4 linked regions of the Homo sapiens genome follow. The protein of the gene in region 3 interacts with the protein of the main gene of each other region in a pairwise test. Each region holds a gene or a part of one and is shown on either strand. Other genes may lie near its edges. The genes, in order: LARP4B, DXO, KLF11 and CNST.

The links.
Region 1: the proteins of KLF11 (region 3) and LARP4B interact in binary tests that used the Homo sapiens proteins (3 or more experiments, as listed by UniProt).
Region 2: the proteins of KLF11 (region 3) and DXO interact in binary tests that used the Homo sapiens proteins (3 or more experiments, as listed by UniProt).
Region 4: the proteins of KLF11 (region 3) and CNST interact in binary tests that used the Homo sapiens proteins (3 or more experiments, as listed by UniProt).

The regions. Positions count from the first base shown.
Region 1 is NC_000010.11:921,700-928,721, forward strand, and holds part of LARP4B (la-related protein 4B), read right to left. Parts: intron 6,966-7,022; exon of another isoform or gene 1-6,965. UniProt on the Homo sapiens protein: Stimulates mRNA translation.
Region 2 is NC_000006.12:31,969,315-31,976,867, forward strand, and holds DXO (decapping and exoribonuclease protein), read right to left. Parts: upstream 2,683-7,553; 5' UTR 2,615-2,682; exon of another isoform or gene 2,368-2,614; 5' UTR 2,362-2,367; coding exon 2,006-2,361; exon of another isoform or gene 1,992-2,005; intron 1,961-1,991; exon of another isoform or gene 1,861-1,960; intron 1,834-1,860; coding exon 1,598-1,833; intron 1,512-1,597; coding exon 1,292-1,511; intron 1,165-1,291; coding exon 1,029-1,164; intron 954-1,028; exon of another isoform or gene 890-953; coding exon 795-889; intron 711-794; coding exon 563-710; 3' UTR 501-562; downstream 1-500. Other genes in the region: SKIC2 (superkiller complex protein 2), read left to right, coding at 1-106, 201-401; WHR1 (winged helix repair factor 1), read left to right, coding at 2,683-2,902, 2,988-3,197, 3,307-3,443. UniProt on the Homo sapiens protein: Decapping enzyme for NAD-capped RNAs: specifically hydrolyzes the nicotinamide adenine dinucleotide (NAD) cap from a subset of RNAs by removing the entire NAD moiety from the 5'-end of an NAD-capped RNA.
Region 3 is NC_000002.12:10,039,431-10,046,562, reverse strand, and holds the start of KLF11 (Krueppel-like factor 11), read right to left. Parts: upstream 3,014-7,132; 5' UTR 2,847-3,013; coding exon 2,805-2,846; intron 2,735-2,804; exon of another isoform or gene 2,676-2,734; intron 2,343-2,675; exon of another isoform or gene 2,112-2,342; intron 1,232-2,111; exon of another isoform or gene 1,214-1,231; intron 414-1,213; coding exon 144-413; intron 1-143. UniProt on the Homo sapiens protein: Transcription factor. Activates the epsilon- and gamma-globin gene promoters and, to a much lower degree, the beta-globin gene and represses promoters containing SP1-like binding inhibiting cell growth.
Region 4 is NC_000001.11:246,569,439-246,576,460, reverse strand, and holds part of CNST (consortin), read right to left. Parts: intron 6,593-7,022; exon of another isoform or gene 6,588-6,592; coding exon of another isoform or gene 6,471-6,587; intron 1-6,470. UniProt on the Homo sapiens protein: Required for targeting of connexins to the plasma membrane.

The sequences.
Region 1 (7,022 bases), on a different chromosome or scaffold from region 3:
CCTCAATGCTTCTACAGTTTATTTGGCAATTCTACATCCCATTTCCAGTCCTTTCATGCTTAGGTTTAACTCTCCTGTACTGAGCCCTAAAGAATAATGATTTCAGCAGAAGAGATTAAATTCATCGGTGTGTACAAAGAAATGGGAAGAGCAGGGAAAAACTGAAGGCCACGTGCACACGCAGCAACACTGGTAATACTGCTTCCCATATTCATTCTTTGGTCTTCACTGACAGCGTGAAGAAGCAACTATTGCTGATTCATCAGTTACTCATTTTCACAATGGTCAGTACTCCAAGTCAGCGGTAACCAATCTTTTTTGGCACCAGGGACTGACAGGTTTCATGCAAGACAATTTTTCCACAGACAGAGCGGAGGGGTCAGGGGGTGGGGGGTGGTGAGGAGGATGCTTTCAGGATGAAACTGTTCCACCTCAGATCATCAGGCACTAGATTCTCATAAGGAGCATGCGACCTAGATCCCTTGCATGTGCAGTGCACAGTAGGATTTGAGCTCTTATGAGAATCTAGCGCAACTGCTCATCTGAGAGGAGGTGGAGCTCAGGCAGTAATGCTCACTCACCCTGCTGCTCACCTCCTGCTGTGCAGCGCAGTTCCTACCAGGCCATGATGGGTACGGGTCGGACAACCTGGGAGTTAGGGACCCCTGCTCCAAGTGACCCACTGAAAGGCAACCTGAACTAGCAATTTAGCCTGGTAACAACTGTCAATGGAGCAAGGCACAGGGGCTCACACTCATATTCCCAGCAACCTGGGAGGCTGAGGCTGGAGGATCACTTGAGGCCAGGAGACTGAGGCCAGCCTGGGTGACATGGCAAGACCTCATGTCTCAAAAAATTATTATTTAAATAGCCAGGAGGATCACTGGAGCTCAGAAATTGGAGGCTGCAGTGAGCAGTGGCCACACCACTACACTCCACTCCTGCAGCCTGGGCAACAGAACGAGACCCCGTCTGTTAAATAAATAAATAAATAAATAAATAAATAAATAAATAAATAACAAGTATCACTGGAGGTATGGATATTAACCACAGAGGAATATGGAACATAGAACTTAAAATCATGCTACGCAGGCCGGGCACAGTGGCTCACGCCTGTAATCCCAACACTTTGGGAGGCCAAGGCAGGCAGATTGCTTGAGGTCAGGAGATTGAGTCCATCCTGGCTAACATGGTGAAACCCCGTCTCTACTAAAAATACAAAGAAATCAGCTGGGCGTGGTGGCACACGCCTGCAGTCCCAGTTACTTGGGAGGCTGAGGCAGGAGAATGGCGTGAACCTGGGAGGCAGAACTTCCAGTGAGCGGAGACTGTGCCACTGCACTCCAGCCTGGGAAACAGGTGAGACTCCACCTCAAAAAAAAAAACAAATCATGCCAGACAGAAGTCCACCCAAAAAGACTTTCACAGTAAGCTACTGTATTTACAGTACTCAAGAAACACTAAATGCCAGTGTTCTATCCGTGGTTTAAATGTTTTTAACCTCCTAAAAGCACAAGAGACAATGCTTTCATCCTTTCAAATGTCTAGATTTTTAGAAGGTAGCTTCCCATAGGGACTTCAAGTCTACTTTTAAAGTCAGGACTGAATGGTTAAAGCAATGAACTAGAAATCCATTGGGGTTTCCCGGCACAGGTCTGAATCCTACCAATTACCGCATCTTTTCCTTTGCAAACGTGATTTACTGACCCCTCCTCCAGATGGAGAGCCTGGTATTTACTACCTCTCAGGAAGAAGTGTGACTGCTCCCCAACCTGACCAAACTTTCCCCCTTTATGGACCCAGTAAAAAAAAAAAAAAAAATCTGTACATGCCTCCTAAAGGTTACTGGTATTCTCTGACTGATAAGGCAAAAATTACACAGACGATAATCTCAACAATGAAATACAAATATGTAATCAACAAAGATAAAAAGAATGCTCAGAAAAGCATGAAGCCACCTTTAAAGAAAATTTTAAAGGACCTGATATTTTTAAAAAGAGAATGTTCAACATGTTAACAGATAACAATAACTGAAGCAATTTGTACATCTATACCAAATTGATCACTAGGTTTTCATCTCTGTATTTTGAGCACTGACAATAAAAACAAAGCTCTCTGAAATGTGAAAACAAAATGTTCTCATTTTTCAGAGACACTCCTAAAAAAGGCATGTTTGAAATTATCTGAAATAACAAATATACTTTAAACAACTGGCAAATATTAGCAAATTTAAGACATATTTTATAAACAAATTTTAAAGCATTTTTAGGCCAGGTGCAATGGCTCACATCTGTAATCCCAACACTCTGGGACTGCTTGAACCCAGGAATTCGAGACCAGACTGGGCAACATAGTGAGACCCGCCACCTCTACAAAAAAAAATTTTTTTTTTAATTAGCCAGGTGTGGTGGCATGCACCCATGGGTCCCAGCTACTCGGGAGGCTAAGGTGGCAAGATCGCTCAAGCCCAGGTCGAGGCTGCAGAGAGCTGTGAGCATGCCACTGGACTCCAGCCTGGGTGACACAAACTGTCTCAAAAAAATAAAATATTTTTTAAACATACACGATTATATGTAATACAAATTAAAGGGATTTTAAGGAAGCTGGCTGGTCTCATTTAGACTGGGGCTTGGCCTTTTCAACTATGAAGAGAGGTGTACACAAGAAGAAAGAGATTCCCTACCTTGCCGCCCAGTAACACCCACATGTGACCACTCCCTGCTTCCACACGACTCTGCAAAGCAGAATCATTTAAAAAAGACAATTCTATGACATAAAATCCTCCAACTGCTTCCCACTGGTCTTAGGATAAAGGGCAAAATAATCAACCTATATGGGACCTCCCAAGCTCTGTAAAATAAAACTCTCCACCTACCTCCCAGCCGCGTTCTCTTCCTTCAGCCTTGTTCACACTAGTTCCTTCAAAGCACTCTGCACCTTTCCCACTTGGGGCACTACACAGGTAATTCTCTCTGCTGACCTCTCACTCCACCACCATCCCTCCAACCTCGGTGCCACCATCACAACCTCAGGGAAGCCTTCTGATCCCTCCCATCCAGGCCGGATGTCAGTGCACTGCACTTTCTTATTGGATTATGTGATTGTCCACCTGTCTCAATGGACACCAAACTCCAAGAGATGGCAATCTATCCCTCTTGTTCACCATACTGGGATCTACTCATCAACTATTTAGCGCATGCTACCTACCAGATATTGTTCTAAGGCTTAGGTTCATACTGAGGAGCAAAATATAAATCTTGATCTCATAAGAGTTTACATTCAAGTATGAGAAGACGGGCCATACATAAATTAGTAAGTAAATTATATGGTATGTTATAGTGTCATAAATACTATGAAAAAAGTACAGCAAGAAGGGGAGACAAGGAGAGTGCAGGGCAGGATACACCATAATATATGTGACTGTTGTAGCAGACTATCCAAAGAAGCATGCAGCTGAGAGCCAGCCACTTCCAGAGGCCAGTCTCTATGGCTTTACATAGAACAATGCACTTTCCTATTCCTGCTGGATGACGGGCCTTACAGAAAAATCCTGTTGCCTTTCATCTTTGCATCCCTAGTGTTCAACTGGTCAGAACACCTGCCACAGGAAGAAAATGAACCCTTTTCTTACCGTAATCTCAGTGGCCCTCCTTTATGCCAGGCCCTTTAGCAATACTTAACAGAAAATAAAAAATGGAAAAACATCCACTAAAGTTTAAAAGATACATTTTCAATATTGCAATTGTTTCATTTTGGGTTAACATGATGTTTTTATTTTAAAGCAAAATAAAGGTAAGAAATTCTATGGCTATCTAAAAGGGGGCATTTATTTTATTTTATTTCATTTTTTTTCAGACAGAGCCTCACTCTGTCGCCCAGGCTGGAGTGCAGTGGTGTGATCTCAGATCACTGCAACCTCTGCCTCCCGGGTTTAAGCAATTCTCCCGCCTCAGCCTCCCAAGTAGCTGGGATTACGAGCACGCACCACCACGCCTGGCTAATTTTTGTATTTTTAGTACAGACAGGTTTTCACCATGTTGGCCAGGCTGGTCTCGAACTCCTAACCTCAGGTGATCCACCCGCCTCGGCCTCCCAGAGTGCTGGGATTACAGGCGTGAATCAAAGTGCCTGGCCGAAAGAGGGCACGTTTTTAAAGACTGAGAAACAGTATAATTTAAAGGTCATGTGGCTAAATTACTCTATCTGAAAATACTTTATGCGCTAAATGTAGCTATGAAAAGTCAGTTAAAAACTTGTAAATATAACTTTTATACTCTATAAGAAACTTTCTAATGTATGCTTTTTGAGTAAAGATTTTCCTATTTGTTTACAGAAATGTGCAAGTATACAATCAGCAAACAATTTCTCTGGAACACAGGTGGGAGATGTCTTTGAGCATTCTTATCTCTTTACTTGAATTACTTTCACTAAACATCTACAGTTTACCAGTCCCTGGGCTGGGCAGAGGTGACAAGCATAAAAAGAGAATCTCACTCACAAGGAGCTTACATTAATTATGTGCTAAGTAACACAAAGGTACACTTAGTTGCTACAGAAACAGAGAAGCATAATCTCAGAAGTTAATGCAAAGCAGTCTGGAGGACTCCTAAAATATCTTTTTAAGGATGGTTTAAGGAGCTAAGTAAATATTTTAAAAATTTTTTTAAAGGAGGTGGACATTCAATTTCAGTCAAAGAATCTACCAACAGCAATGGCTACAACGTTTGCAACACCAAGGTAGGAGAGGGAGGCGTGGTCCTGATTAAAAGGTGGGGCAGGGCAAGAAGGAAGACACAGAAGTGGAAGCACACACAGGGCGAGGCCTAGGGCAGTCCTGATGAGTTTCTGAAAAGAGGCCAGCCATCAGGCTATGCCACACTCTGGCTACAGTGCGACTAAAATGATTTGTGTAAATAAAAGAGCATTTTATTGGGCAAATTTATGCACATCAGACTTCATAAAGAACACTTTCAGCAAAGATCAAGTCTCATCTCTATGATTATCATACTCCCCCTAAAAAACTAAGCAGTACGCTTTCAAATTTGTGTTAAACATGGCCGGGCGCAGTGGCTCACGCCTGTAATCCCAGCACTCTGGGAGGCCAAGGCAGATGGGTCACTTGAGGTCAGAAGTTCAAGACCAGCCTGGCCAACACAGTGAAACCCAATTTGTACTAAAGTACAAAAATTAGCCGGGCGTGGTGGCACGCACCTGTATGTAGTCCCAGCTACTCAGGAGGCTGAGGCAGGGGAATCGCTTAAACCCTGGAGGCAGAGGTTGCAGTGAGCCGTGATCGTGCCAGTGCGCTCCAGCCTGGGCAACAGAACGAGACTCGGTCTCAAAAAAAAAAAAAAAAATTGTGTTAAACATGAAATACTTTCAATATTGCAATGTACTCCATGGTCTAGGTCTCCTAACCAGGGCAATGGGGTTGATGGGAAAGAAGATGTAAAACCAGTAGCATCACTGAACTGCAAATCCTTTATGGTTGAAATAGGAGCCATGACAGCTTCACCAGAAAAACTATGAGAAGACAGAGTTTATAAAGGCATTGAAGGGACAAAAGGTATTAAGGTATGGGGTGGCGGGGGGGCAGTGAGAAAGAGAAGGGAAGGAAACACAGCTGAGTTAATAATTTTCCTTGTTCCTAAGGAAGGCATTTACACACAGGAAAAACAAAGCATTAGAACGTTAGGGGAAAAAACTTTCAAGTTGGAATTTATCTCCCTTCTTTTGAGAACCTAGCAGTTTTCTACCTTACAATTCCATGTTCTAAAAAAGGAATTCATTTTCCAATCAAAATAACTCTAGAAGTAGAGTAGTTACAAAGATATCAACCAGCATAAGAGCAAAAAGTTTAAACTGAACTAAACTCAGACCTGATGAGGTTAACTCTCTGAGTGCCTCATTTACTTCGTACTCTAAAATAAGCTTTTACAGAAAAAGGAGAACTCTTCACATCAATAAAGTTCTACAAAAGAGCATAAGCAAGGAAACCCTTACAGCAGTGTCTGTTTTTAACAAGGTATTTTCCAAAAACATGACTTCAGTGTTCATGTCTTCTCCCCATTGGAAAAAGGTTGTTTTGAGAATTTTGTAGAAGAAATTACAAGAATATACTCCAAGATTTTTGTGCAATTTATCAATCTGAAAAGAATATCCCTAAATCTGACAGAATCTATAAGAGTACTGTATGCATGATAAAAGCATATTTAAAACTTGTACCTTTGGCCAGGTACGCCGTGGCTCACGCCTGCAATCCCAGCACTTTGGGAGGCCGAGGCGGGCGAATCACCTGCGGTCAGGAGTTCAAGACCAGCCTGGCCAACATGGTGAAATCCCAACTCTACTAAAAATACAAAAAAAAAAAAAATTAGCCAGGTGTGGTGGAGGGCACCTGTAATCCCAGCTACTCGGGAGGCTGAGGCAGGAGAATCACCTGAACCCGAGAGGCGGAGGATGCAGTGAGCCAAGAACGCACCATTGCACTCCAGCTTGGGCGACAAGAGTGAAAGTCCGCCTCAGGAAAGAAAAAAAAAAAAAAACTTGTACCTTTAACACTAGGATAAAAACAAATGAAATCGATTGATGGTAACACATCTATACAGCTTTTTTACAACTTTGAGAGGCCCTAACATAGACAACACGTTACTAAGATTAGAAGACCTAGATTATAATCCTAGCTATCACTATTTTGACGGAAAATATGAATTTTAACATGACAATGAAATAACAGTGAAAGGAGTTTGTCAGCCACTCCTTGGCTGGTAACATCTACCATAGCCTATCACTACAAAAACTTGCAAATCTATGTAGAGTAGCTGCAGCTACCTGAAGGCACTGTTCATTGTAAACACCATTAACAATTTGATGTCCCAATTTGCATGTTTTGGGGGTGGGGGGAGACAAGGTCTCACTGTTGTCCAGGATGGAGTGCAGTGGCAGGATCATGGCTCACTGCAGCCTCAACCTCCCAAGCTCAAGCGATCTTCCCACTTCAGCTTCTCCAACAGCTGGACTAC
Region 2 (7,553 bases), on a different chromosome or scaffold from region 3:
TGGTGAGGTCCAGGTGGCTTGTGGCCTGAACCAGACGGTGGAGGAATTTGTGGGGGAGCTGAATTTTGGGCTGGTTGAGGTTGTATATGAGTGGGCCCGGGGCATGGTGAGTACCTGAGGTTTGGGATTTTGCAGACGGCTGGCTGGGGAGAACCTGCCCAGGCTGAGTGCATCCAGTCCTCACCCTACTTTCCCCACAGCCCTTCTCCGAGTTGGCAGGGCTCTCAGGGACCCCTGAGGGCCTGGTGGTCCGCTGCATTCAGCGCCTGGCTGAGATGTGTCGCTCACTGCGGGGGGCAGCCCGCCTGGTAGGAGAGCCTGTGCTGGGTGCCAAGATGGAGACAGCGGCTACCTTGCTACGGCGGGACATCGTATTTGCGGCCAGCCTCTACACCCAGTGAATGCCCCATGTAAAAACATGATGATAAAACAGCAAAGCACTGTTGTGTGCTTGAGTTGCTGGACAGGGATGACTCAGCTAAGAAGACAGCGAGAGAACCTCTTAGAAATATGCTTTTATTATCTGCACACAGAGATATGACTGCCTCCCTCTAAAGCATTACTATTTGGGAGAGGGAGTCTTGGGGGGTGATGGGAGGTCCTGAGTCATAGCTTCCACATACCATATGGGCAGGAAGGCGTAAGGTGCATCTTGGTGTACAGACACGGTGACTGGGCCGCCAGGCTCCCAAGAGAAGAGATGAACGAGCCTGGGGGGCAGATGGAGGCATCAGTTGAGGGCCAGAGGCTGGATCCTGGGATCCAGAGGGGAGGGACAGAGCTGAATGCCTCACCTGGGGTCATCCTGGACAACCGTGCTCTGGGCAAAGCTAAGGAAGGCGGCACAGAAGTTCATGCACACAGAGGGATTCCAGCCGTCACGGTCATTCTGGAGCAGGCAGAGGAGGAGGCAGAAGATGGGCAGTGGGGGTGGTGGGAGGAGAGAAGGCAGGCTGTTGCCCTGGATGCTAGACCTGTGGTCTTGGTGTTTGGGGATACGGGTGGGAGCTGCAACATCGTTCCCTTACCCTGACATATTCAAACATCTTCATGGTAGGAAAGGTCTTGAGGGAAGAGACAAAACCGTCTGGGTTACGGAAGCCAGCAACAACATTCGGGACCCCTGGGAGGAATGACTGAGCCCACCATTTCAGGAGCTTGTGTCTGACAGGAAAAGCAAGGGATCAGTGGGACCCCTCGTGCACCCTCCATTCTGCCTTCACCCTCCTCCCCAAGTCCCTTTCCCAGCCTTCAAGCCTAAGCTCTCGCCCTGCCCACCCCGATCCTGAACCTGTAGAAACTCCTCCATTGGCCAGGGCTGTGCATCTCCTTGGAGGTCTTGAGCTCCACATAGCAGGTTGGGGGCTGTGTGGATGGGGCTTGGGGGTCTGTGCAGTCTACCTCCCCTGAGAAGAGCAGAGGGTGGCTTCCCAGGCGGCTGCGTAGCACAGAGCAGAAGGCCACGTTGGTGTTAACCTCCCCAGAGGGGTCTGGGGAGCTTCCAGGTTTGTCTGCACAAGGAGAGAAGCAGCAGCAGGCGTGGGGGGCTCTCAACCTCTGGGAAGGGGAAGGGGGCTATGAAGCAGGGGCAACTCACCTGCACACATGTACTGCTCAAATTTGTATCCCATGTACATAAGCTCCCGGAGGAGCGGTGGCCGAGCAAGCCTCTGGGCCCGAGCGTTCGGTGTCTCCACTTCACTCAGGTATAGTGTTCCCTGGAACCGGGAGGCTGCCAGCTGCCAGCCCTCCTGCCGCTCATACGGTGTCGTCAGCAGTTTTGTCAGGTGCCCCCGCCACGTCACTATGGCCTCTGCCAGCCAGCCTGGACCCCTGAGAGGCAGGAGTTACAGGCTGAAGGTCTGACACAAGCATTAGTGAGATGCTCCCCTCGAAGAATAGTCTTGTTTCTTCTAAGGACTGATTCTCACCCCGGCTTTGGCTCTCCTAATTTTAGAGGGTAGGTACGGGTCTCCAGATATACTGCCTACCACGCTTTGCTCACCCCTCCAACCGGCCTCGGTGTTCCAGGAGCCAGCACAGCAGGTGGTCCAGCCTTTCCTGGACCTCCTCGTCCCGGGGCTGGTATCGATCCGGGTATCCGTCTCTGAGGTCAAAGTTGGGGCCTGGACCGTTAGTGGGGGGTGGGCTATAGTAGCGCAGGGCTCGGGCATCTCCATGGTACTGGCGTTGAGCATCCAGGGAGAAGCAGCCCAGTTCCGAAGGGCGCCGGTAGAAAGGAAAGGGCCCAGAGTAGAGGGCAGGGTCTGTGGGCAGAGAAGGTGCTGGACGAGGTAGTTTGTTCCGAGGCTCAGCTACCTCTGTCTTCTCAGCTCCTCTCTTGGTCCCCCTGGGATCCATGAGGTCCTAAGACAAGCAGGGGTACAGAGTTTCCATTCTACAGAGGAGGCCTGGAGAAGGATGACTGGTTTAGGACTAAGCGAGCCACCTGATCGCCAGGCTCTGGCCTTGAAACATTCAGGCCCCTCAGACGCCACCGCGGCCAAGCTCTCATCCTGCCTCTTTCCTTGCCCTTCACCCACCCTCCCTCCAGGTCCTCCAAATGCAGTGAGGTTAGGAAGGACGTCTGCGCTCAGATCAAGAATCCAGTTACCTCAAAGCTCCCCAACTTCCACCTCCGCAGAGCTATGACGTCATGGCAGGCACGCCAGAGGCCGAAGGATGCAAAAGTGGTTTTCTGCTTTCGATGATGCAATCATTCAGCGACAGTGGCGGGCAAACCCCTCCCGGGGCGGGGGAGGTGTGAGCTTCACGAAGGAGGTTGACACCAACGTGGCCACCGGCGCCCCTCCACGCCGCCAACGAGTCCCCGGGCGTGCGTGCCCTTGGAGGGAGCCAATCCGCGGCCGGCGTGGGGCCCGGCCTGGCGGAGGTGATGCTGGTATGTGCGTCGCCACCGCCCCTCCCAGCACTGACGGGCCTGAGGGACGACAAGTTGACGCTCCTTTCGTCATCACCTGGTCTAGGAGGGACGCCCGGGGAGACCGTACGTCACTGCTCTGCGCCGGAAGACCCTATTTTCAGGTTCTCTTCCCTCCATTCCTACCCCTTCCCCGGTACCATAAAATCCCGGGATATGAGCTGGAAGAGGCATCACCTGATCCCGGAGACCTTTGGAGTTAAGAGGCGGCGGAAGCGAGGGCCTGTGGAGTCGGATCCTCTTCGGGGTGAGCCAGGTAACCATGGCAACCCCGGGGGTGGGGCCTCGCTTCCGGTAGCCGAGAGTTTTGTTAGAACCGCGTCCCCGCCCCAGTTCCCTGTCCGTGAGCCGATTTATCTGCCCAGGGTCGGCGCGCGCGGCTGTCTCAGAACTCATGCAGCTGTTCCCGCGAGGCCTGTTTGAGGACGCGCTGCCGCCCATCGTGCTGAGGAGCCAGGTGTACAGCCTTGTGCCTGACAGGACCGTGGCCGACCGGCAGCTGGTGAGGGGCGTCGGTGCGACCGCCGGAAGCCCCTTTCCTAACTCCTGGAATTCCCTGTCACTCAGTCACTCCGCCAGCCGTTCAGCAAGCATTAGGCCTTTCAGGCGAGGGCACTGTGCCAGGCACTGGGGTGCCACAGAGACCCTGTTAAAAGTCCCGCAGGTAGTACAGGGCATTTCAAATCATGGAGGTAGAAGAACGAGGCTTTTGGGGAAACCGAGTCATGGGGCATGGTTCGAACATACAGCGCTGGGAGTGCAGTCAGACGTCAGATCATGACAGGCCTTGTACATCAGTGTTGTTTCCATCTTACACTGAGGCGATGGGCTGGTAGAGAATATCATAGAGAGAGGGAATGGTGTATTGGAGATAGTGGATGAGGCAGGGAGGTCAGCTAAGAAGATACTGCATCTGAGAAGTGGTGAAGGCCTAAATTAGGTCAGTGCAGTAGGGAGGGAGAGGAGAGTGAGGAAGAGGGAGGAGTCCAGGACAACTCAGACTTTCCAGATGACTGCGTGGCTGGTGGTATTAGGAGCACATTTAGTTGTTGGACTACAGATAATGTGTTTAATTTTATACAAGTTGAGTTGATGGTGCATGTGGAGCATCCAAAGACAAAGGTATTAGACAGTTGGATATGAGAGTTGGAGAGAATTCTGGGCCAGTGATAATAGAATTACAAGTCATGGAGGTGTGAATAGCAAGTGGTTAATTCTGTGATGTGGTGAGATCCAGTAGGAAGAGTGGGTAGAGGAGTGATTTCTAACCTTTTTGTAATCTTTAGAAGGTGATAAAAGCTATGGCTATCTCTCTCCAGAAAAATGCACGTTTGCCACATATACATAGGGTGTATGTATAGTTAGGGGGGAAATATTTTACTAATCCTGCGAGGTCCGTGGTTAAGGACTCCAGGTTTAGAGTGGAAGTTAATAGGGTCAAATCCACAATGCTGGGAAACACCATCATTTAAGGCAGTGTTACTGAATATATGAGCTGAGTTATTATGCCTGTGTCAAAATTACGTGGGCTGCTTGTTAAAAAAAATACAGGTTCCTGGGACTCATCCAAGGTTAATGAATTACGCTCTCTTGGGGCGGGATTTGGGACTCTACATTTTTGAACTGCCTCAAGTGCTTTTTAAGTGTGCCTTAAAATTTGAGATCCACTGACATAAAGGGAAAGCAGAAGAAGAGGAATCTGTGACAGAGGCAGAGAGGGACTTGCCTGAGTTAAGAGGAACCCAGAGGCCGGCGCGGTGGCTCACACCTGTAATCCCAGCACTTTGGGAGGCCGAGGTGGGTGGATCTCTTGAGCTCATGAGTTTGATACCAGCATGGGCAACATGACATAACCCCATCTCTACAAAAAATACAAAAATTAGCCAGGCGTGGTGGTACGCGCCTATAGAGCTACTGGGGAGGCTGAGGTGGGAGGATTGCTTGAGCTGGGGAGGCGGAGGTTGCAGTGAGCTGAGATAGCACCGCTGCACCCCACCCTGGGTGATAGAGCTAGACTTTGTCTCAAAAAAAAAAAAAAAAAAAGTAACCCAGGAAGAGGCCTACTGTGAAAGTAAAGAGATTTTTGAGAAAGTGAAGTAGTTGGCAGTATTAGAACCTGTGATTCAAGACAGTGGTCTAAGAAGAGGGAAGAGGTAAAGTAAAATATAAACTGAAATCTAGGCTGAGTGTGGTGGCTCATGCCTGTACTCCCACCACTTTGGGAGACTGAGGCAGGAGTATAGCTTGAAACCAAAAGTTTGAGACCAGCCTGGGCAACAAAGTGAGACCCCATCTTTACTAAATAACTGAGATCCCATCTCTACTAAATAAATAAATTAAAACACAAAAATTCTTAGCTGGGCATGGTGGTGTGCACCTATTGTTCTAGCTGTTTGGGAAGTTGAGGCAGAAGGAGTGCTTGAGCCCAGGAATTTGAGGCTGCAGTGAGCTATGATTGCACGACTGCACTCCAGGCTGGGTAACAGAGGGAGACCCTGTCTCTAAAAAAATGAAAACAACAACAAAAAAACCCAGAACTGAAATCTGTCCATTGGATTTAGCAGGTAGAAGGTTAATAGTGATCTTTCAAGAAAAGAGGAAAGAAAAGGAAGGCAGTCTAGCACTCACTTGAGGTGAGCTAGTCTCCCTGACTAGGTCTCCCGTGAGGAAGCATGCCAGATGGAACCACTCCTTAAGGAGTATTTGTTGATTTTAATGTATTGGTGTTAGCTTTTGTTTTTAAAAACCTTTAAAAGTTGCAGAATGAAAATATAAACATATATAATTTAAATGATGTTTATAAAGCAGATACCTATCTAGCCACTCCCTAGGTCAAACTATAGAATATGACCAGTATCCCACATATATCCCTCTCTGATCAAAATGTCTCTGATCAGAATGTCCCTGGGAGGTGACTGCTGTGGTCATTGTTGCCTTAGTTTTCCCTTTTTTTTTTTTTTTTTTGAGGTGGAGTGTCGCTCTGTTGCCCAGGCTGGAGTGCAGTGGTGTGATCTCAACTCACTGCAACCTCTGCCTCCTGGGTTCAAGCAATTCTCCTGCCTCACTGTCCTGATTAGCTGAGACTACAGGCACGCGCCACCATGCCCAGCTAATTTTGGTATTTTTAGTAGAGATGGGGGTTTCATCATGTTGGCCATAATGGTCTTGATCTCCTGACCTCGTGATCTGCCCTCCTCGGCCTCCCAAAGTGCTGGGATTACAGGCATGATCCACCGCACCCGGCCTAATTTTGTATTTTTATAGGGATGGGGTTTCACCCTGTTGGCCAGGCTGGTCTCAAACTCCTGACTCAGATGATCTGCCTGCCTCGGCCTCCCAAAGTGCTGTTTTTTTTTTTTTTAATTGTCTTTTTGATAATTCCACTATTTTTTTTTTTTTTTGAAAAGTCTCCCATGTCTACCTCTTTCCACACAGACACGGCAACCATCCGATTTCTCAATCTTTTCCCCACCTTTTCCCGCTTTCTAGTCCACAAAACCACCATTGTCATCGTGGCCCGTTCTCAATGAGCTGTTGGGCACACCTCCCAGATGGGGTGGTGGCCGGGCAGAGGGGCTCCTCACTTCCCAGCAGGGGCGGCCGGGCAGAGGCGCCCCTCACCTCCCGGACAGGGCGGCTGGCCGGGCGGGGGGCTGACCCCCCCACCTCCCTCCCGGACGGGGCGGCTGGCCGGGCAGAGGGGCTCCTCACTTCCCAGTAGGGGCGGCCGGGCAGAGGCGCCCCTCACCTCCCGGACGAGGCGGCTGGCCGGGCGGGGGGGGCTGACCCCACCACCTCCCTCCCAGACGGGGCGGCTGGCCGGGTGGGGGGCTGACCCCCCACCTCCCTCCCGGACGGGGCGGCTGGCTGCGTGGGGGGCTGACCCCCCCACCTCCCTCCCGGACAGGGCGGCTGGCCGGGCAGAGGGGCTCCTCACTTCCCAGTAGGGGTGGCTGGGCAGGGGCGCCCCTCACCTCCCGGACGGGGTGGCTGGCCGGGCAGGGGGCTGACCCCCCCACCTCCCTCCTGGAGGGGGCGGCTGCCGGGCGGAGATGCTCCTCACTTCTCAGACGGGGCGGCTGCCGGGCGGAGGGTCTCCTCCCTTCTCAGACGGGGAGGCTGGGCAGAGACCCTCCTCACCTCCCAGACGGGGTCGCGGCCGGGCAGAGGCGCTCCTCACATCCCAGACGGGGCGGCGGGGCAAAGGCGCTCCCCACATCTCAGACGATGAGCGGCCGGGCAGAGACGCTCCTCACTTCCTAGATGGGATGGCGGCCGGGCAGAGACACTCCTCACTTTCCAGACTGGGCAGCCAGGCAGAGGGGCTCCTCACATCCCAGACGATGGGCGGCCAGGCAGAGACGCCCCTCACTTCCCAGACGGGGTGGCGGCCGGGCAGAGGCTGCACTCTGGGCACTTTGGGAGGCCAAGGCAGGCGGCTGGGAGGTGGAGGTTGTAGCAAGCCGAGATCCCGCCACTGCACTCCAGCCTGGGCACCATTGAGCACTGAGTGAACCAGACACCGTCTGCAATCGCGGCACCTCCGGAGGCCGAGGCTGGCGGATCACTCGCGGTTAGGAGCTGGAGACCAGCCCGGCCAACACAGCGAAAC
Region 3 (7,132 bases):
TCTACTCCTTCAGACCCACACAGAGAGGATACGCAACTTATTTGCCAGCATCCCAGGGAATCTTCTCACAAGTTCTTCAACACACTGAGTTCAGCTACTCTAGTCATTTCACAAAAACGCTCCTCCCTCCCACCTCCTCTTACCAGAGTCGATAAAGAATGGAAGTCTTTTGGTAGTTCAGGTGTGGCTGCATCCATATGCACAGTGGTGGTGACATCCCCAGAGTCAGAGACAGGCGTGAGGGGTCTTATCCGCAACAGGTCACCTTTCTGGGATCTTTGACCCCAGGAGCTCATACAAACAAGAGCCTCGACAGCTTCCATGTCTGTCTGCTCCAAGATGCTGCAAGTAGACCTTTCGCTGTCATGCCGCTTCCTCTCCAGGATGGACTCACATATGTCCATGATGTCAACCTAAAGGCGACACAACACAACGGCTTCTCAGTGCAGGGGAAATACAGAGGCCACCCATGATGGGCATGTGGATATGCATATCAGAAGCCTACAGTAGGCATGTAATGCACATGCAATAGTCTATAGCAACAAACACCGAGGTGTAGTAAAAGACATTCAAGGAATGCTCATGACAATTCGGCTTTTAAGCCAACATTTCACAGACAGAACTAAGCTGGCAAGCGTTGCCACCAAAAATCCTGACTCTTAAAAAGGGCTACTAAGTTCATATTTTTCTTGGGTAAATGATTAATAAAATTAACTCCTGAGGTTCAAGCCAAAAAGTGGCTGGGAGGAGGAGCAGCTGCCCAGGGAGGAGGAGCCAACACTGAGGCCATCTAGTCGGTCTGCCAGTGGCCGCGGCGCCCTGACCATGGCTCTCTGAGGCGGCAAAGCCGCCAAAGCAGTGTCCCTACAGATGCTCTCAGGGACTCTGGGGCCTTCCGCCTAGGCTTCCAGCACTCCACGCAGGTAGGGCCCATGGCGATTCCACCAGTTCCCTCCACAGATTCGGGAGTGGAAGTCATCTGTTACTGTCCCAAGGCTAGCAGGTGGTGACAAGAAGCCAACCTGCCGCGAACCCGGAGAGGATCTCTTTGCAGTTTTTTTTTTCTTTTTGAGATGGAGTCTCAGTTGCCCAGGCTGGAGTGCAGTGGCACAATCTCGGCTCACTGCAGTGCCCGCCACCACACTTGGGTAATTTTTGTATTTTTAGTAGAAAGAGAGTTTTGCTATGTTGGTCAAGCTGGCCTTGAACTGACCTCCCGGGTTCAAGCGATTCTCCTGCCTCAGCCTCCAGAGTAGCTGGGAGGCGTCCGCCACCACGCCCAGAAAATTTCGTATTTTTAGTAGAGACGGGGTTTCACCATGTTGGCCAGGCTGGTCTCCAACTCCTGACCTCAGGCGATCCACCCGCCTTGACCTCCCCAAGTGCTGGGATTACAGGCGCCCGGCCTTGTTTTTTTGAGACAGAGTCTTGCTCTGTTGCCCAGGCTGGAGTGCAGTGGCACCATCTCGGCTCACCACAACTTCTGCCTCCCAGGTTCAAGCGACTCTCCTGCCTCAGCCTCCCCAGTAGCTGGGATTACAGGCGCCCACCACCATGCTCAGCTGATTTTTGTATTTTTAGTAGAGAGCGGTTTTCCCCATGTTGGTCAAGCTGGTCTCGAAAGCCCGGCCTCAGGTGATCCGCCCACCTCGGTCTCCCAGAGTGCTGGGATTACAGACGTGAGCCACCGCACCAGACCCTCACCGTCTCTTTAATCTGGAGGGGAGGAGGGAAGAGGCTGGAATGAGCTGATCTCTTCCAAAAGAAAACTAAGCCGGGGGCGAGAGGGTGATATTACTCTGAGAAGAGTAATACCCCTCCCTCCCAGGGAGGTTACAGTGGGCCGAGATCGCGCGCCCACTGCACTCCGGCCTGGGCGATAGAGCGAGACTCCCTATCAAAAAAAAAAAAAAGGAAAGGAAACTTTAAATGTACGAAGATACACGTTTCCTCTCTATCTGCCATGCACCAAAGCATCAAAGCTTTCCGTCTGCCGAGGTTCCCCGAGATCAAACAAGACGAGGCCACCTCAAATCCCCGGCCTCTGTCCCGCAGGCTGCGCCACTAAACCCCCTGTGATGTCACAGAACCGGGCGCCGAGGCCGACTCACCACACGGGCGGGAAGGGGCTCGCCCGGCCCACAGTGCCCGCACACCACGAGGCCCGCGCTCTGCCCACGTCCACGGCTACCTCCCCGAAGCCCCCAGGTCGCGACGCTTAGGGCCCCCAACGCTCGCGTGCCGCGTTCCCGCCTCCAAGCGTTGCCCCGCCTCCAAGGCAGTGCGGCGCTCCCGCCTCCCGTCGTTGCCCCGGCCCCTAGACCTTGCCCGCCCCCAGGCCCGAGCGGCACTACCGCTAGCCGCTCTTAACCCGCCCGACGGCCGCGTGCCCCGCCCCCAAAACCGTGCCGCGTTCCCGCCAGCAGCTCTTGCCCCGCCCCCAAGGCCGCGTGCCGCGTTCCCGCCAGCCGCTCCCCCGCCCAACGGCCGTCCGGCTCACAGGACCGGGGTGACGTCATGGCTGGAAATAGCCGCGGGGCCAGCGGGGCGGGGCCGCCCAGGAAGCGCAAGACAAAGCTGCGCGGGGAACACGCCCCCTCCTCGCCCCCGCCGACCCGGGCGCGCCCGTCGCGGCCGCCGCCCCGCCCGGCTCCGGAGCCCGCCCAGGCCCCTACCGGCGCGGCCGCAGCGAAGCCCTGCACGCCCCACCTCCCGCATTTACAGGCGCGCGAGTGCCGCACCACTTCCCCCGCCTCGCCCCTCGCTCAGACGAGTAGTCCCGCCGCGGCAGCCCCACCACTCACTGCGCGCGCGTCGTCTGGGCCTGCGAAGTCCGGCGTGTGCATCGTGCAGGCCGGCCGGGAGCAACAAAGCGGCCGCGGGGCGTGAGCTCGGGCGCAGCAGCGGCCGCACGTGGGCTGCGGGCGGCGGCGGCGGCGGCAACCCGGAGCTCCTGCGGCCGGCACGCGCCTCGCCCGCCCGCGCGGCTCTGCCCCGGCGCGGCCCTCGCGGCGCGGGAGGGGCGGGGCGGCCGCGGAGGGAGCGGCTGGCGGGGCGGGGCGCGGAGGCGAACCAAAATACACCGCGCCCCTGCCGGGGCGGGGCCGGCCACCACCAGCCAATTCGTGCCCGGCCGGCCAATGAGCGCCGCGGGGGGCCGCGTGATCGGAGCCTGGCCGCGGCGTGATCGGGCAGGGCGGGACGCGGCACGTGTTTTGGTCGGAGCGAGGGGCGGGGCCTGAGGCCCTGGAAAGTAAGGGAAAGGTCGCAGCGGCGCCAGGGGCAAGCGGGGCGGAGGGGGCGGCGGGGGCGGAGGGGGCGGCGGGGGCGGAGGGGGCGGCGGGGCGGCGGGGGCGGCGGGGCGGAGGGGGCGGGGCGGCGGCTGGGGAAATCCCAGGGCCGGGGCCGGACTCGGTGCGGGGAGAGGGGACCACGCTTATAGGAACCTCCTGCAGCCCCACCGGCTGAATCCATCGGTAGCGGAGACCCACCTAGAGGCCTCAACCTGGCTTTTGTTTGGTTGTTTTTAACTTCTGTCATTCTCCCTTCGTCTCTTAGGAATGCGTCCTTGACCGGAGAGGTCGGAAAGCTGGCCGGTTCTAGGTGACATTCCTGCATCCGGTCATTTTTGCAGACAGCGGGAGTCAGAGCTTATTGGCCTGAGTGTCCCGCTGACGCCCCTCCTCTGGCGTCTCTGGGCCTCTTCCGCTCTGTTACGGGGTCAGGGGAAGCCGAAACGGGCAGTCACCCAGAAGGCGCCCGCTGAAACCCGCCCATTCTTCCCAGGCCCCGAGAAAACGCCGCCCCCTCCGGGAAGTCCTCGAGCCTGCAGGAGACATCTAGCCCGCTGTCCAGGGCACCTTTTTTTTTCTCCCTATATTTCGGTTGCTCGCGTCTCTTGGTGTGGTTTGCCCACGTCTGCAGCGCCAGGTTCGTGGAGAGCAGGAACCATGCTGTTTATTTTCGTCGCCGCAGCCTTCAGCTCAGCGAGGAGCCACCCCTCCTCCGTCTGTTCACTGCGCGCGCCTTTGCTGAGCTGTGATGCGGGTTGGCGCTCAGTGCAAGGGGCAGAGGCCGCAGTGAGGAATCCTCCTTTTTTAAAAGCTCCATCCAGGGAGCGGGAGCAGAGAGAGAATCCCGGCACCCCGGGGCTTTGCTCTGAGCGAGAGAATTCTGGTCTTAGGGGAACGGGCTGGGCCCCACCACTCACATGAGCAGGACTCTGGTCCCCACTTGTTCCTTCGGGGCCCACTCGGGTTGGGCAGAGGGGTTGACCAGGCTGAGGAGAGGGTGTTTGCTGAAATAGTAAGAGGGTTTAAGACGAAAGAACCGTGATAAACTGCTCGCATGAAGACCCCGGAGGCTCTGAGAGGGGCGCAGGGTGTTCTGTGTGTAAAAAGTTAAGTCTTAAGATACACACTGGAATATTCTCTTTTGCCTGGACTCCTGCATTCGCCTTATAACTGGTCTCCCTGCGTCCACTCCAGCTCCCAGAGCCTCTTCCCACTCAGCACCCCCAGGGGTCTTTAACCCTTTCAGTGGCTCCCACTGTACTCAGCGTAACGCTTCTGCTCCCCACTGTGGCTTGTGAGCTCCTGCAGGGACCCAGCCCCATGCCTCTCCCCACGCCCCGGAGGGACAGCCTGGGCCTCCTCTTGGGCGCCTGTCCCACCAGCCCCTCTGCCGTCTCCAGGTCCTCGCACTTGCTGTTCCCTAGAATGCTTTTCCCCCACATGCCCCCTTTACTCTCACCCGCAGTCCACCTGGAGAGGCCCCCTCTAGCGGACACACCCTCGGGGCCGACCTCCAGTCCCCTTCTGGCGGGCTTTCTTGTTTTCTTCCTCCACAACACTTTTCTTGAACTGCCCCTTTTCCATTACTTCAGTTATTTATCATCTGTCTCCCCACCAGAAGGACTCTCCCAAGGCCAGGGAGCCTGGCTGTTTAATAAGTCCACGTAGGTGAACGAGCGAATCGAAGGTATCCACCAGCCTCCCTGCTTGAACATCCCGTGAGCACCTCTAATTGTGTCCTTAAAAAAACTGAACTCAGGGCCGGGCGCGGTGGCTCACGCCTGTAATCCCAGCACTTTGGGAGGCCGAGGCGGGCGGATCACCTGAGGTCAGGAGTTGAAGACCAGCCCGGCCAACATGATGAAACCCCGTCTCTTCTAAAAATACAAAAATTAGCCTGGCACGGTGGCAGGCGCCTGTAATCCCAGCTACTCAGGAGACTAAGGCAGGAGAATCGCTTGAACCCAGGAGGCAGAGATTGCAGTGAGCCGAGATCGCACCACTGCACTCCAGCCTGGGCGTCAGAGACTCAGTCTCAAAAAAACAAACAAAAAACTGAACTCGGATTCCAGCCAAATCTGGATTTCTCACCTCCGTGAAGGGTACAACTGGAGACCCTGTTCCTTGATCTAGAAACCTGAGCGTCACCTTTACCTCCTCCCTTTCGCACAGTTGCTGTCTTCCGCCAATTACATGCCCTTCTTCCTTCTCAGTTCCTCTCAAACTCTTATGTCACCCACGCCAGCCCTTGTCCTGGCCACCACCTGCTCACCTGAATTGTTGCCACTGCCTCCCAACAGGTCTCCCTCCCTCCAGCCAGACGCCCTACAATCTGCCCTCACCTCACTGCCAGAATGATCTTCTGGAAGCAGAGGTGGAGCTGAACCTGTATTCAAGCCGTCAGTTGGAATCCAAACAGTTATAGGACTGACTTCAGGCTCCATGGCCAGGAACCCATGAGTCTTTGTAGCCAGGCTCCAGCCAGCACTTCCTGCATCATTTCTGACCAGTTTCCCAAATTGCTTTCCCTGCTGCCTTCCTGCCCCCACTGACCCAATACAGAACCCTGTACTCTCAAGGTCACGCCACTCTCTTCTGTTTCTAGACAGCATTCCTTCTGCGTGGAACATGCCAACCCTCGTCTGCTTTGACTTTGCAAAACTGCATGAGACCGCCGGGCGCGGTGGCTCACGCCTGTAATCCCAGCACTTCAAGAGGCCGAGGCAGACAGATCACCTGAGGTCAGGAGTTTGAGGCCAGCCTGGCCAGCATGGTGAAACCCCGTCTCTACTAAAAATACAAAAAATCAGCCAGTAATCCTAGCTACTCGGGAGGCTGAGGCAGGAGAATCGCTTGAACCCAGGAAGCAGAGGTTGCAGTGAGCCGAGGTCATGCCATTGCACTCCAGCCTGGGCTACAAGAGTGAAACTCCGTCTCAAAAAAGAAAAAAAAAAAGAAAAAAAGACTGCATATGACTCCCCAGTGAAGCCCTCCCTGATTGGCCTCTGCAGAAGGCAGCATGCCCGGGCTTTGGAGTCAGACCTGCATACAAATCCTTGTTTTGCCGGTGTGACCTTGCCAAGTCTTCTTTCCTGCAGGACAGAAGGCGGCAGCAGCTCTCCCTGAACTGGCACTCTGGCTTCTCTTGCCCCAGGGTCTGTTTCTGCTCCTTGGACAGCAGGCGCATGTGGGAACTGTGCCCTCTTCAGCCATGAGCCCCTGTTCTGCGCACATCTAGCCCATCTTCCAGATGGACAGACAGTCTGTGGTCGTCGCCAAACCCCTGAATCTGGCCCTGCCCGCAGTCAGAGGGATGGCAATTTGTAAGCTACAGACTATTGCGAATCATTCACTTGGAGACTGAACTAAGACTACTGGCACCAGGCTCCGTAGACCCTCGGGAAGAGCATGGTCTGGCAGGCAGACTGGATGTGGCCACAGATAACATCCCCTAAGGGGAGAGCGTGAGCCTGCAGGCCAGAATGCCACCACTTTCTCCTGTGTCGTTCCAGAGAGAGCCTGTGGCTATGCACGCTTGCTGCTACAGAGGGTAGTGCTGTATACCTCCTGGGCTCACTTACTGACTTTTCAGTCTAAGGGCTTATTGCAATTGGTACATAACGATCATACTTTGTAATGGTTAAGTAATATTCCATCATATGGATGTGTTGTTTATTTAACATTCTGGTTGAATAACCAAGACTTTTAGGTTTCCAGTTTTCCAGGAACATCATGCCCCTCCATCATTTGCCCACCTGGAAGGATAACTACAGGATAAGCAGCTCTTAGAACTGGAATTGCTGAGTTAACTGCTCTGTGCATTTCCTTGCTTTTTCTTG
Region 4 (7,022 bases), on a different chromosome or scaffold from region 3:
CACAATTAAACCAAAACAAATTTACGAATTATGACATGCAAAAAAAATCAATAAAGTTAAAATAATAGTCACTGAACACGATGCTGCTCTGTAAAAATTAAAGTTTTGTTCACTAGTGGAATACGGTATACACTGTGACTGCACGGTTATCATAGGCACGTGAGGATCCAACTCTCCCACCACCAATTACTGAGAAATCTTTGTTTCTTTTTTTTTTTTTTTTTTTGAGACGGAGTCTGGCTCTGTCGCCCAGGCTGGAGTGCAATGGCGCCATTTCGGCTCACTGCAAGCTCCACCTCCCGGGTTCAACCAATTCTCCTGCCTCAGCCTCCAGAGTATCTGGGATTACAGGCGCCCGCCACCATGCCTGGCTAATTTTTGCATTTTTAGTAGGGACACGGTTTCACCATGTTGGCCAGGCTGGTCTTGAATTCCTGACCTCAAGTGATCTGCTCGCCTCGGCCTCCCAAAGTGCTGGGATTACAGGCGTTACAGGCGCGAGCCACCGCGCCCAGAGAGCACTGAAATCTTATATGAGAATGTTGTTTTAAAGTGTCAGTATTGTTCTTGAATAAGCTTATATTATTTTTTATCATTGAAATAAAAATAGGGAATTTTTAAAAATGCTAATTACTTTTTTCCTCTTCCACTTCTCTGTATTTTACATATTTTCTATGATAAACTTGTATTTTTTCTAGTTGAGTTTCATGACACCTTTATCGACATATAATTCATATACCATACAATTCACCCACTTAAAATGCACAATTCAATAGCTTTTAGTATTCACAAATTGTACACAATCAATTCTAGAACATCTTATCACCCCGAAAAGATCCCCCCTGCCCTACATACCCACTAGCAGTGATTTCCCATTCTCCTGCACCCCCACCACAGCCCCAGGCAATCACTCAAACCACTCATGTACTTTCTGTCTCTATAGATTTACATATTCTGGACATTTCACGTAAATGGAATTATACAATATGCGGTCTATTGCAATTAGCTTCTTTCACTCAGCATGTTTTCAAGGGGTATCCATGTTGTACTATATACTGATACTTCATTTCTTTTTATTGCCAAAGAATCTTCCACTGTACAGATATACCACCTTTTATTTATCTATTCATCAGTTGATGGACATTTGGGCTGTTTCTACTTTTTGACTCCTGTGAATAATGCTGTTATAAACATTTGTGCACGTTTTTGTCTGAACACTTGACAAAAGGTCAGGAGGTCAGGAGTTCAAGACCAGCCTGGCCAACATGATGAAACCCCGTCTCTACTGAAAATACAAAAATTAGCCAGGCTTGGCGGCGGGTGCCTGTAATCCCAGCTACTCGGGAGGCTGAGGCGAGAATCACTTGAACCCGGGAGGTGGAGGCTGCAGTGAGCCAAGATCGTGCCACTGCACTCCAGCCTGGGCAACAGAGTGAGACTCTGTCTCAAAAATAAATAAATAAATAAATAAATAAATAAATAAATAAAATACTTGAGGAAGATTTGTTCAGATTTGTTCTTTGACTCACTATGACTTTCCTTCATAATCTATTAAATTATTTTTGTTTTAAATAAAATACTACTAAAAATGATGCTTTTACATAGGAATCCTTATAAAGCCATAGCTGCTTATAAGAGAGATTTAGGAAGGACATGCAATAACCAACCAAGTCAAACTGATGCTGTGGTTGTTGTCCTTTTTTGAGTAACATATTCCTTGAAAAATCTGATGAAAGTTGAGAATTCCCTCTGAAAAATACACGTATTGTGCTTTGGGAGGCCAAGGCTGGAGGATCGCTCCTGGAGGAGGCCAGGAGTTCTAGACCAGCTGGGGCAACACAGGGAGGCCCTATCTCTGCAAAAAGTTAAAAAAAAAAAATTAGACTGCATACCTGCAGTCCCAGCTACTAGGGAGGCTGAAGTGGGAGGATTGCTTGAGTCCAGGAGTTTGAGGCTGCACGGAGCTATAATCTTGCCACTGCATGGCAACCTGGGTGATAGTGCGACAAGCTGTCTCTAAAAAAAATTTTTTTTAAAGAAAAAGAAAAAACACGAATTTTTGAATAACCATGTTTTCCTCAAGTTAAAATTTATTTATCTTTTTAAAAAATCTTTGGAGCGGCTGGGAGCGGTGGCTCACGCCTGTAATCCCAACACTTTGGGAGGCCGAGGCGGGCGGATCACAAGGTAAGGAGATCGAGACCATCCTGGCTAACACGGTGAAATCCCGTCTCTAATAAAAATACAAAAAATTAGCCGGGCGCGGTGGCGGGTGCCTGTAGTCCCAGCCACTCCGGAGGCTGAGGCGGGAGAATGGCGTGAACCCAGGAGTAGTGGAGCTTGCAGTGAGCTGAGATCACGCCACTGCACTCCAGCCTGGGCAACAGAGCGAGACTCAGTTTTATTAAAAAACATCTTTGGAGCATTATTACTTCTGTAATCAAGAAGGAAAAAAGAGGCAAAGATGTGTACTTCTACCCCCCACCACTTCGAGTTTCTAATAAAATATGCCTATTCTGACCTGTCAGCTTTCCATGGAAAAAACTAAAAGGTGAGGGAAGGCAGAATAATCTATAGAGACATTCTGGGCACATTTTTTCACTTACACTGAAGAGCTGGAGGAAAATGGAAACTCTCCAGCAAAGGCTATACAAAGTACGTGGTTTTACACAAAGCGTTACACAAGTACATGGAAGCTTTAGTTACAAAACAGATATTCTTAGAATATGTTTCCTCAGCCCAGATAAGTGTTCCTGGAGCAGAAATTTTGCTCATAAGGTTTTTGCACTCGCAGCTGTTCTCTTTGAGGCTTCAGGGAAGGCAAGCCATGGACACACAGGTTAAAGCTCTGTTGGCATTCACCGGGCAATCCCTAGGTTTTCCCCAGCTATGCAGTGGAGACAGGAAGGATAAAAAGCCCGCAGGCATCAGAATGCACGAAACTATAACCAACCAAGAGGCCACCTGATATAATAAAAACTAACTTCTTGAATTAAATACTATTTTACTTTAGGTTATTTTGAAATACAGCTTTCTCTGGCTAGTGAAAAGATGAGCTTTGGTGAATATATGATCTAACAGATTAATTTTAAAACAAAAGTTCAAATGTAATGGTAATAAGACAATCTTCTTCCAAGTCACAAGACCTATATTACATGATTAAAGTAGGGAAGAGCAAGGGTATTACCTCTAATTTTGGCTCTTTACAGTGCTTATCCAATGCTACAGGTATAACTCTAACTGGCATGCCGAAGAACTCCACAACAAAATTTTTAAAATACTTGTAGCAAGAAGAATCTAGAGATTGCTGTGTAAATCATTTAAAATAAAGCCTGATGGCTGAATTTGAATTAAGATGCCAAAAATGGGTATCAATAATGACTTTTCCAGGAAACTACATTTCACAATATCATAACCAGTATAATTTGCACAAACGTCCACCCCTCTTTTCATGTGAGTTGACGCTGAGGGAGGAAATCCTGTTGGTTACATGAATCCTTGTAAGATCCAATTTAAGTAAACTTTTTCATGCTTCACAAGTGGAAAAAAAAATCTAAAATGTTAGTTGTTGTTTCATGAGGTAAAAACAAATAACTCAGGCCTGGTGCAGTGACTCACACCTGTAATCCCAGCACTTTGAGAGGCTGAAGTAGGCACTCTGCTCGAGCTCAGGAGTTCAAGACCACCCTAGGCAACATGGCGAAACCCTGCTTCTATTTTTCTAAAAAATTAATAATTAAAAAAACCACATATCACACACATAAATAAATAACTCCACTATTTATTATTCAATAAATAAAACATACATTTGGCTGGGAGTGGTGGCTCACGTCTATAATCCCAGTATTTTGGGAAGTCAAGGCAGGAGGATCACTTGAGCCCAGGAGTTCAGGACTAGCCTGGGCAAAACAGTGAGATCTCATCTCTAAATAACAAACCACACACATTTTCACAAAAATCCTTATTGAAAAATCTTAGGCAATGTTTTTCAGTTCATCTAAAAATTATTTTTAAGATTTAGTTGTATACTGGGAATAAAAGCTGCAGAAGAGAAAAATAATGAACAAGGACAATGCATACAAAAAATCAAAATATAAGCAGTATACTATCAAATACTCAAGGACAGCAGCATTTGATCTTATAAAGTTCCCAAATTTTTTAATAACTTATTTCAAAATCTATAATATAAAAAAGTATTTAATTCATTTATGTATGTATTTTTGAGACAGGGTCTTACTCTGTCACCCAGGCTGGAGTGCAGAGCACAGTGGTGCAGTCATGCTTCACTGCAGCCTTGACCTCCTGTGCTTAGGTGATCCTCCCACCTCAGCCTCCAGAGTAGCTAGGACTACAGGCGTGAGTCCCAGGCATGGCTGTGACTGGCCAAAAACCATTTTTAAAGGTTACTTTACCTTCATTCAAATTAGAAAACCACAGTCACCTAATTCACTGAGTTTTCAAAATGCAGCTAAGGTAGAAAAAATATGTGATTATTTAATCAGGTAGTGGCTCTCCAGAAAAAAACAGGGCAATTATTCTCATAAGAAAATTTAATACATATGCCAATTGCAAAATAATGTTAATTTCTATAATTGCCTAGATACTGTCAATTTAAATATCAAATGCCCAAATGTCAATGAAGGGTGACTAACCAGACAGTGTGGCACATGCCTATAGCCCCAGCTCAGGAGGCTACAGCAGGAGGATCACTTGAGCCCAGGAGTTCAAGGCTAATCTGGGCAACATAGTGAGACCTCATCTCTAAAATAAGTAAATAAATATGACAAAATTTACCATTTACTGTTTCAGAATTTTTCTTAATCTAAAAGGAAAAATCATCTTGATTTGTCAGTATTTTCATAGGCACACACTGTCTTTCCTTTCCACGTGGCTAATGATGATGAAAAACAGGAAGTCCTAAGAGACGGAAGGGTGGAGGGTATAATGGCAAAAAGTTTCCATCTCCAAAATGTTAAAGAGCAGGATCTCAAAACTAAGATAAAAACCATTTGGCCTGGCACAGTGGCTCACGCCTTTAATCCCAGCACTTTGGGAGGCTGAGGTGGGCGGATCACTTGAGGTCAGGAGTTTGAAACCAGCCTGGCCAACATAGTGAAACCCTGTCTCTACTAAAAATACAAAAAATTAGCTGGGTGTGGTGGCACACGCCTGTAATCTCAGCTACTTGGGAGGCTGAGGCAGGAGAATCACTTGAACCCAGGAGGTGGAGGTTGCAGTGAGCTGAGATCTCGTACCACTGCACTCCACCCTGGGCGACAGAGCAAGACTGTCTCAAAAAGGATAAAAACAATTTAAGAAATCTCAAGCTATTATAAGACTTCAGAATTCTGCTAATGATGTGTTCTTTAACGAATATTACAAACAATTATTTCAAATGCTTAAAAAACAAAATTATTCCCTGAGAGGATATATAATTTCCCCCATGAGAATGATTCCTACATAAAGGAAAGCCTGTATTCATGTGAATCTTGAAGGCCCTAAACTGGAAAGGTTACATAACAGTATCAAGACATACATATATTAAGTTAGAATTTCTCATTAAGCATATAATGCTTTTAAAGCCCAGTTAAACCTTATCAGGGCTTTTTAAAAACTGAAGATTACTGCACTATCAATTACTCTTCCTAAAATAACTACAATAAATTTGCTAAGACTCACTTGTAGAAACCAAGCAATGTATTTTCTCTTATCCAACTAAAAGGGTGCCAATAAACAGCTATCTAGTTTTAAATACAAACAAAAAACATTATTATTTTCTTATAGAACATCCACACATCTCTCACAGAACAAGTAACATCCAGTAACTATACCCCTTCCCCAATTCTGTCTTTGATCCTCTAACACTCCCCATAGTCCCTACATTGTGCCAGGTCTATCATGACTATATTTGACAGAGGGAGTTTGTTCACTGACCAGGTAATTTAAAATTTCTTCATACTATAAAGGTTGAGAAGAGGGCATGTTTCCTGTATTAAATTACACTGAATATTAATTAGGCCTTCAGGCTAATTTAGCTATTAATGTAGATATAACACACAGCAGCTAAAGTAGTATTTAGGGAAGTTTATTAGAGCACAGAGGTCAAGACAGGAACAATGATGGGTCTGACTGATCCCCATGGAGGTTAACTGGCTTTAGAGTTACCTTTGTTACAGCAGCTCTGAACCACTGACGGTTCTACGTAAATCACCACCCTTGTTGCAAAAACAACTTGAAGCACGTATGGAGACAGTATGTCAGTTGCTTTATATAAAAACTGCCATCTTTCCTTTTAAATTCCCCTAAACCACCATACACAAGTTAATCTTTTACTTTACTCAGGCTCCCAGCATTCTACAGCCATAAAACCTACTCTCTTCCTTTCTAAATTTTGCTCAAAGATTTGATCTTTCCCTTGGTAAGAAACACCATGATATAAAGAAGCACATTTATAAAACTCTTAGCCTTACCTGAAACTGACTCAGAAAATAACTCTGCAACAACAGGTACTCTACCTGTTCACAATAAAGTTCAATCTTCTTGAAGGTCCTCAAGTTCTCCCTACAATTTAGTCGACAGAAACTCATACTGTGCCTTGACACACTGTTGACGTGCAGATGTAAATAACTAGTAACAATGACACGCCAGGAAATGACTGAACACTATTCATCTTATGAGCCTCATTAAACAAGCATGGGGCTCAACGTTAACACAGTCAACACTAAGAGAAAGAGGCTGGGCATGGTGGCTACGCCTGTAATCTCAACACTTTGAGAGGTTGAGGTGGATCATTTGATCCCAGGAGTTCAGGGCTCCGGGACTGCCACTGCACTCCAGCCTGGGCAATAGAATGAGAATCTGTCTCAAAACAAACAAAACAAAACAAAAACACTAAAAGGAAGAGACTTAGAACTCTCTTCCTGCATAGAAACTTCTCAAATTAAATACCGCAGTACTTCAGGAAGAGGAGTTTTTAATTTACCCCACAGAATCAGACTCTCAGTGTAGGAAGACAGCTTAAA